2 separate regions of the Homo sapiens genome follow, and region 1 is linked to region 2. The links come from fine-mapping of genetic effects on gene expression. A gene starts in region 2. The other region holds a variant in brackets. All regions are shown on one strand. Distances are between the middles of the regions.

Region 1 (4,000 bases), 32 kb before region 2:
GATACGGGAGCAAGAGACTGGCCTCTGGCAGTAATGGATCTTGGAGATTTTTTTTTTTTACTATACCTTTACACGAGAAGGATAAGCCTCGATTTGTTTTCTGTGCCTTCTGTTGATTGGAGAAAGCCTGTTTCTCATTATCAATGGAAAGTTTTACCCCAAGGCATGCTCAGCAGTCCTACGTCATGTCAGCATTTTGTAGGAAAAGCATTAAGGAACCTCAGAATATGTTTCCCACTGCCTATAGATTTACTAACGTGGGGACGAGGGTATGCTTATGTTTTTATAGGAGATGGACAAACCATGTGGGTGCCCTCAAGGTGTGTGCAACCATGGAACAGGAGACTGGAGGGACCCATGGATCCCAACCATGGGCCTGGTTCCCCTGGTATGAGCCATGAGCCAGTTGAATCTGAGTGCAAAGACAGAGTGAGGACTGACCAGAGTCACACTGACATCAACCCCCATAACATGAGGACAGATTTTGTTCAATTAATGTAAAAACAAAAAGGGGGAGATGTTGGAGGCCGAAAGAATGAGGGTCATGATCAACTCAGTATACCACTGGAGGCTGTATGAGCAAACTGTTCTCATAATGCAGAATGCTGGCAAACTGACAAACTGCGTCTGCCACCCAGAAGGAATGCTGAGGGCAGTCACACCTCAGGCGCAGTGTTTGTGATTATCTACAGGCACACATGAAGCCTGTCAGCAATTATGTGAACCTGTGATAAATCAAGCAGCTGACCAAAGGTTACCTGCTCCTCCCTGCTCTTTCTACCCAATAAATATGGAGGGCTGTGGAAGCTCAGGGCCCTTGCTCACTAGAAGCAAAAGCAAGGACCCCTTCTTTAAAGCAGATTCTTTTGTCTTGTTTTCATTTCTGCATTTGTCCTCTTTTGTTCGGTCCTGTAGTAACTGTCACAAGTGGCGTACATCCTCCTTCATTCAGTCCCATAGTGACAGTCACACAAGTGCAGGTATCTTTTTGGTGGAACGATTTCTTCTCCTTTGGGTAGATGCCCAGTGATGGGATTGCTGGAATGAATGGTAGTTCTATGAGAACTCCCCAAACAGCTTTCCACGGGGGCTGAACTAATGTACGTTCCCACCAATAGTGTATAAGCACTCCCTCTTGTCTGCAACTTCACCAGCATCTCTTATTTTTTGACCTTTTAATAGCCATTCTGACTGGTGTGAGATGGTAACTCATGGTAGTTTTGGTTTGCATTTCTCTGATGATTAGTGACGTAAAGCACTTTTTCATACATTGTCACTTGTATGTCTTCTTTTGAGAAATGTCTGTTCATGTCCTTGGGTACAAGCACTTAGAAGGAGCATCTTCTGGGGATGGGGGAGTGTGCAGGGGCAAGACAGAGGAAAGGAAGACATCGCAGAAAACAAGACATGTTGCTCTGACTTCCATTCTAGTAGTCATCTGTGCTGTGCTCCCCAGCTCTCACTCTCTCCCAAAGCCATCCATCCAACCCCAACCAAAGAAAAGCAGAGCCAGAAGCCTTTGCTTTCACATTTAATCCAAGGAAAAAGAAAGAAAACCAATCAGTGAGAAAACTCAAGAATTGGATGGCTGAGGGAG[G/A]GAACAGAGGAAGCGCACTGGGGCTGGGACTGAATATGGACAGTGGATGGTAGGGTCCTCACTCTCTTGAGGTCCCTCAAATACAAGAGTCCACAATGGCAGGGAGGGAGAACAGAGTCATAGAGCTGTGGTGGGGGCACACACCTGTTCCAACCCAGCCCCAGCCCTGTTCCAGGTGAGCCAAGGACTGACAGCCTCTGCTAGGTACCTGGGAGGGCTGTGGAGTGAGGGCTCAGGCAGGGGAGGTAGGAGGCTGCTCAGAGAGGAAAGACCGAGAAGAGACAGGAGGGAAGGGCCCCAGGCCTGCCCCTTGAGCATCCCTAGCAGTGAAGGTGCCATGAAGGCCAGGTACCCAACCCATCTCCATCAGAGATGATGGTCATTTGGATCAAGGGGGCAGAAGCAGCTGCAACAACAGATCTTCCCCTGCCTCTACCCTCAAATCCCCCAGAGAAGGTAGGAAATGGCAAGTGACCCTATAGCCTCAGGTCAGCAAGAAAACACCCCATTTCCTTCCCACTCCCTTAGGCTGAGGGTGATGCAAGGCAGAGCTGAATCAGGATGAAAGGACACTGACTAAGGGAAAAGAGGAGCAGGAGAATGAGTGTGTAGTATACGCAGAGCCACACCAACGAGATGGGGGCAGGCCTGGCCTTTCCACCCCATGTGTATAGTCTATGCAAATGCAAATGAGATTCCTAGTATAAGAAATATATTCTAACATTTGTAATAAATATTCTGTTTATTCTCCTTCCCCTTCCCTAGGAAATGGGCACACAGTGGTTCAGGGGCCAGCTTTGGCTGACGCTGCAGCGAAGACTAGTTAGACACTTGGAAGAACTGGGAGGCACAAGGGTTTGGACTCAGGGTGTCACAGGTTGTCCCCTCTGAGGACAGGCTCCCCCCGGAAGGAATGCAGAGAATAATGAAGGATGAGATGCCCAAGTACATCTAGGACAGCATTCTTTCTTAAAGGGAGTCTCCTATTTTACAAAACTGCCCTCCCCAAGTTATGGCAGGGGGGCATTTAGGGTAGGGGGACAATAAGACAAGGGAGGAGACATCAGGAAAGGACCAGGGCTTTGGAGTCTGGGATCAGGGTATTATAAGAAATGAGGGCTGATGGGGAACCCCCAGAAAGGGGCCCCAAAGAGTGACCTCCAAAACAAAACCCTTTGCTTCCTCCCCAAATTAAACCTGACACACACACACACACACGCACGTGCACACGCACACACATACACACAACCTGGTGCCAGAGGCACAGACAGGTGCCGAACATGCACGTGGAACCACAGGTTGTACAGACTACAGTGTAAATGGCGCCTCTGGAGTTGTGTGTGAGGAACCTCCTGGAGGGCAACTGTCCTTCAAGCCCAGGCTCCCAAGGTCCCCTCTGCACTCCTCCTTAGCCCCTCCAACCCAGCAGCCCTGATGCAAGTGGGCTACCTGGACCTGGCTAGACAGAAAACCAAATGGACCAAGGTCAAGGACATAGAGCTCAGACCTGTGCCTGCTGTGGGCCATGGAGAGCTTGGGGCTCTTCAGTTGGTAACAGCAGGTTGTCACAGGGCTCAGCCCTCCATCCTGCCCCTACCTGGGCTGAGCCCACTGGCCCCTGCCAGCCTGGCCCTGTGGGGAGCAGGGCTGACCTGTCAGGACACATTGGAGAAATCTGGAGAAACTTCGGCAGTGAGAAGCTGTGGATGAGGGAAGGACCGAGCAGCATCTGCCCTGCGACCCTGTCCCTTTCCAAAGGAGCTGGGAGCTGCAGTGCTCTGCAGCTGTGGCCACTAGCTCTCACTCTGACTCCTCCAGCCTTCAAGATGGCACCAGGCTGGCACCACCACCCGGGCCTGCCTGGCTGCCAGCGGGCCACACATTCCCCTGGTCACACGGAAACAGCCCAAGGCCTGTTCCTCCGACACAGGGGTGAGAGGTGGGAGGAGTCCAGGAATGGGGTGGGTGTGGCCAGTCCAGAGGAGAACTGGTGACTGGGGAGGGGTGGCAGGGGGCAGTGTGCCTACTGACCATGTGGTCCCAAAGCAGCTTTTCTCTTCTCTGTACTGACCATTATGGAGGTGACTCTGACACATTCCTGGGCATAGCTTGGCCCTCAGAGATATCTGGTGACCAATGGGCATCAGGAGTGGGCAGCACCTGGGCACAAGGTACCCCATGAATGCCCACCTCCCTGGCAGTGCACGCCTCTGTGCTGAAGCCAGACTTAGGGCCTGCTGGGAGCTGTTACCCAAGGACAGCCAGATATGGGGGCTAAGGATTGTGGCAGGGGGTCACAGGTCAGGAGGGGGATGGATTCAGGTTCTGGGTTTCAACACAGAGTGAGCCAAAGACCAGGTGAACAGGCTCAGTACACCCAGCTGACAGGCACCCACTGGGGCT
Region 2 (4,516 bases):
CCCAAAAGAGGATTCTTCCCAGAGGACTAGTACCTGATTTCAATAAAACCCTCTCTGCTCCCATTCCCTTCTCAGGCCTGAGCTGGTCACCTGAGCTCAGGTGACAGAAATTACAAAAGTGAGGGGGATGGTTCCCTTTCCTCCCAGCTCTGCCGCTGAGGACATGGAATAAAGGTGCTTTCAGGGAGAGGAAGGGCACCCCTATTCAGGCTACACCCAGGCTGGAAGAAATGCCCAGGATCCACTGTGCTGGCCCGTGCCCCTGGTGCCAATCTCTACTCCTAGAGAGCAGGGAGGAGGGATCCCTTCCCTCCCCCTCCCAGGCCTTGATGACCTGGAGCCTTCTCCTGGCTGGCGCTGCTCTCCCTCACAGGGTCAGAGAAGGGACTCCAGAAGTCCTCCTTCCCTAGAGCGTGGAGGGCGGGAAAAGGCAGGGAGGATCCTGTATGAAATCCCTGCGCTCGGAAGTCTTGCCCAGCCTGCCTGGGTTTTCTCCCGGGGAATCGGTTCCCAGAGCATCGGCTGGCTTTGCTCCCCCACGCCCGTCCAAGCCTCTGAGAGGGCGGGGCCTGGCTGTGTCCACAGGAGAACGGCAGTGCCAGGCAAGCTAGCCTGGCTCCGTGCCAAGGTCCTGCACCCAGACATCTGGGAACCTGCACCTCGGCTTCCAAAAGCCTGGGCCCAGATGCCCTCTCAGCTCTGCCTCCGAGATATCCACATCACCCATAGTGTCCGCAGGCGAGCGGACCAGCAGTGAAAGGGAGAGGTTTCTTCCAACCTCCCACCCATCCCTCCATCCATACACATACAAAGAGGTGCGGAGAAGAAAGGTCTGACAAAGGCGCTTTGGAGAGCGAGAGGTCGCGGGGAGGTCTGGACAGAACTGAGGGCCAGAGGATGGGGTCGAAAGGCCAGGCGGACGTGCATGCTTGGACCATCAGATCACCCCTGCCCCAACGGACCCAGCCCTAACACCCTGGGCGCTAGGACCTGGGGGAGGGGGGCGTGTTGTGAGCCATCAAAGAAGGCTCTCTACGTGCGCGCCCGCCGGAGACCAGGGATGAGGTCACTAAATGACTGCCCCGGCCAACCCCCACCCCGTCTTTATCCGCACCGCCCCCCCCTTAATTGACCTAACTTTCTAACCCTAGCTCTTCGCTTCTGGCACCGGTCCCCTCCCAAGTCTCCAGACCCTAACCCTGGCTCCCGACCCGCCCCGCTACAGCTTGGGAAGCGGGAGAAGCAGCGCGCGCCCTTCTGCGGACCCCCTCCCAGGGAAGATTGTGGTGTTAGCTGCCTAGGGGGACCAGGGGGCCACCGGGACCCAGCGCAACCTCTGTCTCGCTCCCCAACCCCCGGAAGCGCTAACAGCACGGTTCTTACGTAATGCCGGGCTTCTAAGTACCCCCAACCCGCACAGCCCCCGGGGAGGCCGCGCAGATACCGGGGCCCCTCACAGCTCACCACCTTGGTGCCTGAAGCCACTTTGGAGCCCCTACCGCAGGGGCGGGGACCAGTGTCAATGGGCAGCGGGGCTTGGTTCTCCCAACCAGCACCCCAGAAAGAGGGCCCAGGGGCGGGGGCGGGTGGACAGGGAGGGAACGGGCCTGGGTGAAAGGGGCCTGTGGAGTTTAAACCCAGTGAATAGGGTCCTAAGTGCCGTGTCAGGACGAAAAGAAGGCGGAGGTCTTGGGATAGGAGCTGGCCCGGGGGCCGGGGGACGCCTACCTGCGCCCCGGGAAGCCCCTAGCTCCGGGCGGCTCCAGCGCAGCCGGGCGCTCAGCGTTTATTGCTTGTCAATCGCTAGCCCGGCTCTTAAAGCGGCAAGGCCTCTCCGCGAGGGGGCGGAGGTCCGGAGGAGAGGGGAGGTGAGGAGAACGCGGAGGCCGGCACAACTCGGAGGAAGTAGTCTTTCCCAGCAGCTGGTACGGGGGCAGCCAGGTAGTGGTTTGGGAGACACCGCACAGACCACGACGCCCTGCTGGAGTCCCACTGGGAAGGGTTAGGGAGGCAGGACTGGTACCAGTACCCGCTGGTGCCCCTCGGCTCCCAAGGATCCCTTAAAGGGGCGATGGTAAAAGTGCCTAATGAGACCGGCTTGATTACTCCGCCCACCCATCTTGGCTTAGACCGGCGTTCTAGTTCCAGGCGTGCCTCACTTTTCCTCGTTATCCTGCTTCCATATTGAGAAAAAGAATAGGAGGACTTCAGAGAGACTCCCAGGAAGCAGGATACCAGCCCCAGAAGGCCTCGGGATCAGGGGCAGCTTTTTAAGGACTCAGAGGGTGGATATCCGGATTCCAGACTTTCCAGAAATTTTGCAAAAAAGAGGAAATGTCTTCCTGAAAGGATTCGAGAGCCTCTTTTAGGTCTAGGTGAGGGAGGCCTGGTCCATTTTCCTGCCTATGGAATAAAGAAGTAACTGGCTAGCCTTCCTCAGAGTCCCAGCCCAAAAAGTAAATAAAGGGTTAAACCCACTGGCCCGCCTTCGCCCAGCCTCCGGCTCCACCCCACATCTGCTAGTAAAAGATGCTGGGCCTCCAAATACGGGAGGCTCTGTGCAGTGCGACTAGCATTTGGGGCCAGCTACGCTACTTCTCCGACCTCGGCGTTCAGCCACCCCGTCCAGTTGCCCTGAACAAAATGTGAGAGTCATCCCTTTTCCTTGCTAACTGGATTCCTAAGATCATAAATGGACTGCATCTTTGGCCGGGCGCGGTGGCTCACTCCCATAATCCCAACACTTTGGGAGTCGGAGGCGGGAGCATCGGTTGAGCCTAGGAGTTCGAGACTAGCCCAAGCAACATAGTGAAACCCCATCGCTACAAAAAATAAAATAAACAAAATTAGCTGGGCGTGGTAGCGCGCGCCTGTAGTCCCAGCTACTTGGGAAGCTGAGGCTGCAGTGAGCCGAGATTGCAACACCGCACTCCAGCCTGGGCAACAGAGTGAGACCCTGTCTCAAAAGAAACAAAAAGAAAAGAAATGGATTACATTCTGGAAACTTGCTTGGAAATCTCAGAAATGGGAATCTATCCCGAAAGCAGGGGACTGGTCCCTGGGTTCCAAGACTCAGCTCTCCCCTGAGTTCCAAGGGTATAAGTTTGGATATAGGAAAAAGCCACAGAGGCGGCCGAACTGCTGAAAACCACATTGTTTAGGTGACCCAGGCTTTTACTGAGAGAAGAAAGCCATCGAACCCAGATAGCTTTGACAGGAATTGCAGGCTTTGGTCTCTAAACAAAGAGGGTTCTTGGAGCGCATTGCTTGCAGCTCTTTCCTCTATCTGCAAGCTAGAAAATCCTTCTTCTTCTTCTTCTTTTTTATTTTTATTTTTTGAGACGGAGTTTCGCTCTTGTTGCCCAGGCTGGGGTGCAATGGCATGATCTCGGCTCGTCGCAACCTCTGCCTCCCGGGTTCAAGCAATTCTCCTGCCTCAGCTTCCCGAGTAGCTGGGATTACAGGTATGCGCCACCATGCCTGGCTAATTTTGTATTTTTAGTAGAGACAGGGTTTCTCCATGTTGGTCAGGCTGGTCTCGAACTCCTGACCTCAGGTGATCTGCCCACCTCAGCCTCCCAAAGTGCTGGGATTGCAGGCATGAGCCACTGCACCCGGCCTAGAAAATCCTTATAATTGAATTCAGGAAGAGTTCCCCTTTCCATTATAAAGGCTACCCTCCACTGTCACCTGTCCACCTCTGGGCTGGAAATCACTCAGCTATTTGTATTTTGGAAGAGGAAGGATCTTGAATCTCTACAAGATATTAATTACTTCTTAATCAAGCAATTATTACCTCCATAGCGACCCACATCAAATCTTCCATTCCATTTAGGATCCTCAGGACAGTCTGGGATCTCAGATTCTGGCCCACCTGGGGAGGTGGAGCCCAACTCATTATTCTTAGCGGCTGCCCCACTGCATTCGTCGGTCAACAAGTATCTCTCTAATAAAGGCCTTGCAGAATGCCAGCCTCTCACATCTGTTCAGGACCTTACAATTGACAAATTGTTTCATTCTCACAACAGCCTTGTGCAGTTACAGAATGAGAAGAAACATTTATTGATGCAGAATAGGATGCTCCTCTTCTGTGCCAGGCAAGGTACCACTTACTGTGATACTGAGATAAGGGCCCTAACCTCCTAGAGTTCACAGTCTGGGGTTGAAGTCGGAAAGGAGTGTGTTACATAGATACAAAAAGCGCTTCTTGGTAGCACAGCTGAATGCCATAATAAAGGTGCAGTGTGTCCTAAGCTGTTCCCCAAAGGAATAGAGCTGCTAATGGTTGGCAATGGAGTAGCTGGGAAGGGAAGCAGGTTTGAAGGTCGGCAATGCATCCCCTAGTAGTTAAGGGCTGCCCCCTACCTCAAGAGGGGAATGAGTCCTCCTTCTCTGAGGTTTGTAATTAGCTCTGCCTTCCTCCCTGCCTCAGCCTCAGAGGTCATAAAGGTGCAGGTAGTATATCTCCTTCCCCCAAAATCAAGGTATTCCTATGGTGGTGTTCAGCCCAGAGTTT

Which allele goes with the higher level. Alleles are on the strand shown, and positions count from the first base shown. SD is a standard deviation of normalised expression in the study named.
As copies of A replace G in region 1, the expression in nucleus accumbens of the gene that starts at base 1,791 in region 2 goes down (moderate effect, 0.54 SD a copy in GTEx).

What was found. PIP is the estimated chance that this variant, and not a neighbour inherited with it, causes the effect.
Region 1: its variant is the best candidate, but not a certain one, in a credible set for the expression of MPP2 in nucleus accumbens (GTEx, PIP 0.84).

What each region holds. Positions count from the first base shown.
Region 1 is chr17:43,873,842-43,877,841 of GRCh38, forward strand. MPP2 (MAGUK p55 scaffold protein 2) reads right to left here. Exons shown (of 13, transcript NM_005374.5): 13 at 1,519-4,000. The coding sequence ends at 3,966. Among named protein-coding and RNA genes, the nearest start is that of CD300LG, 29 kb to the left of the region's middle. The variant G/A (reference allele first, on the strand shown) is at 1,598.
Region 2 is chr17:43,905,746-43,910,261 of GRCh38, forward strand. It overlaps MPP2 (MAGUK p55 scaffold protein 2), which reads right to left and starts at 1,791. Exons shown (of 13, transcript NM_005374.5): 1 at 1,729-1,791. RefSeq lists an enhancer at 1,801-1,950.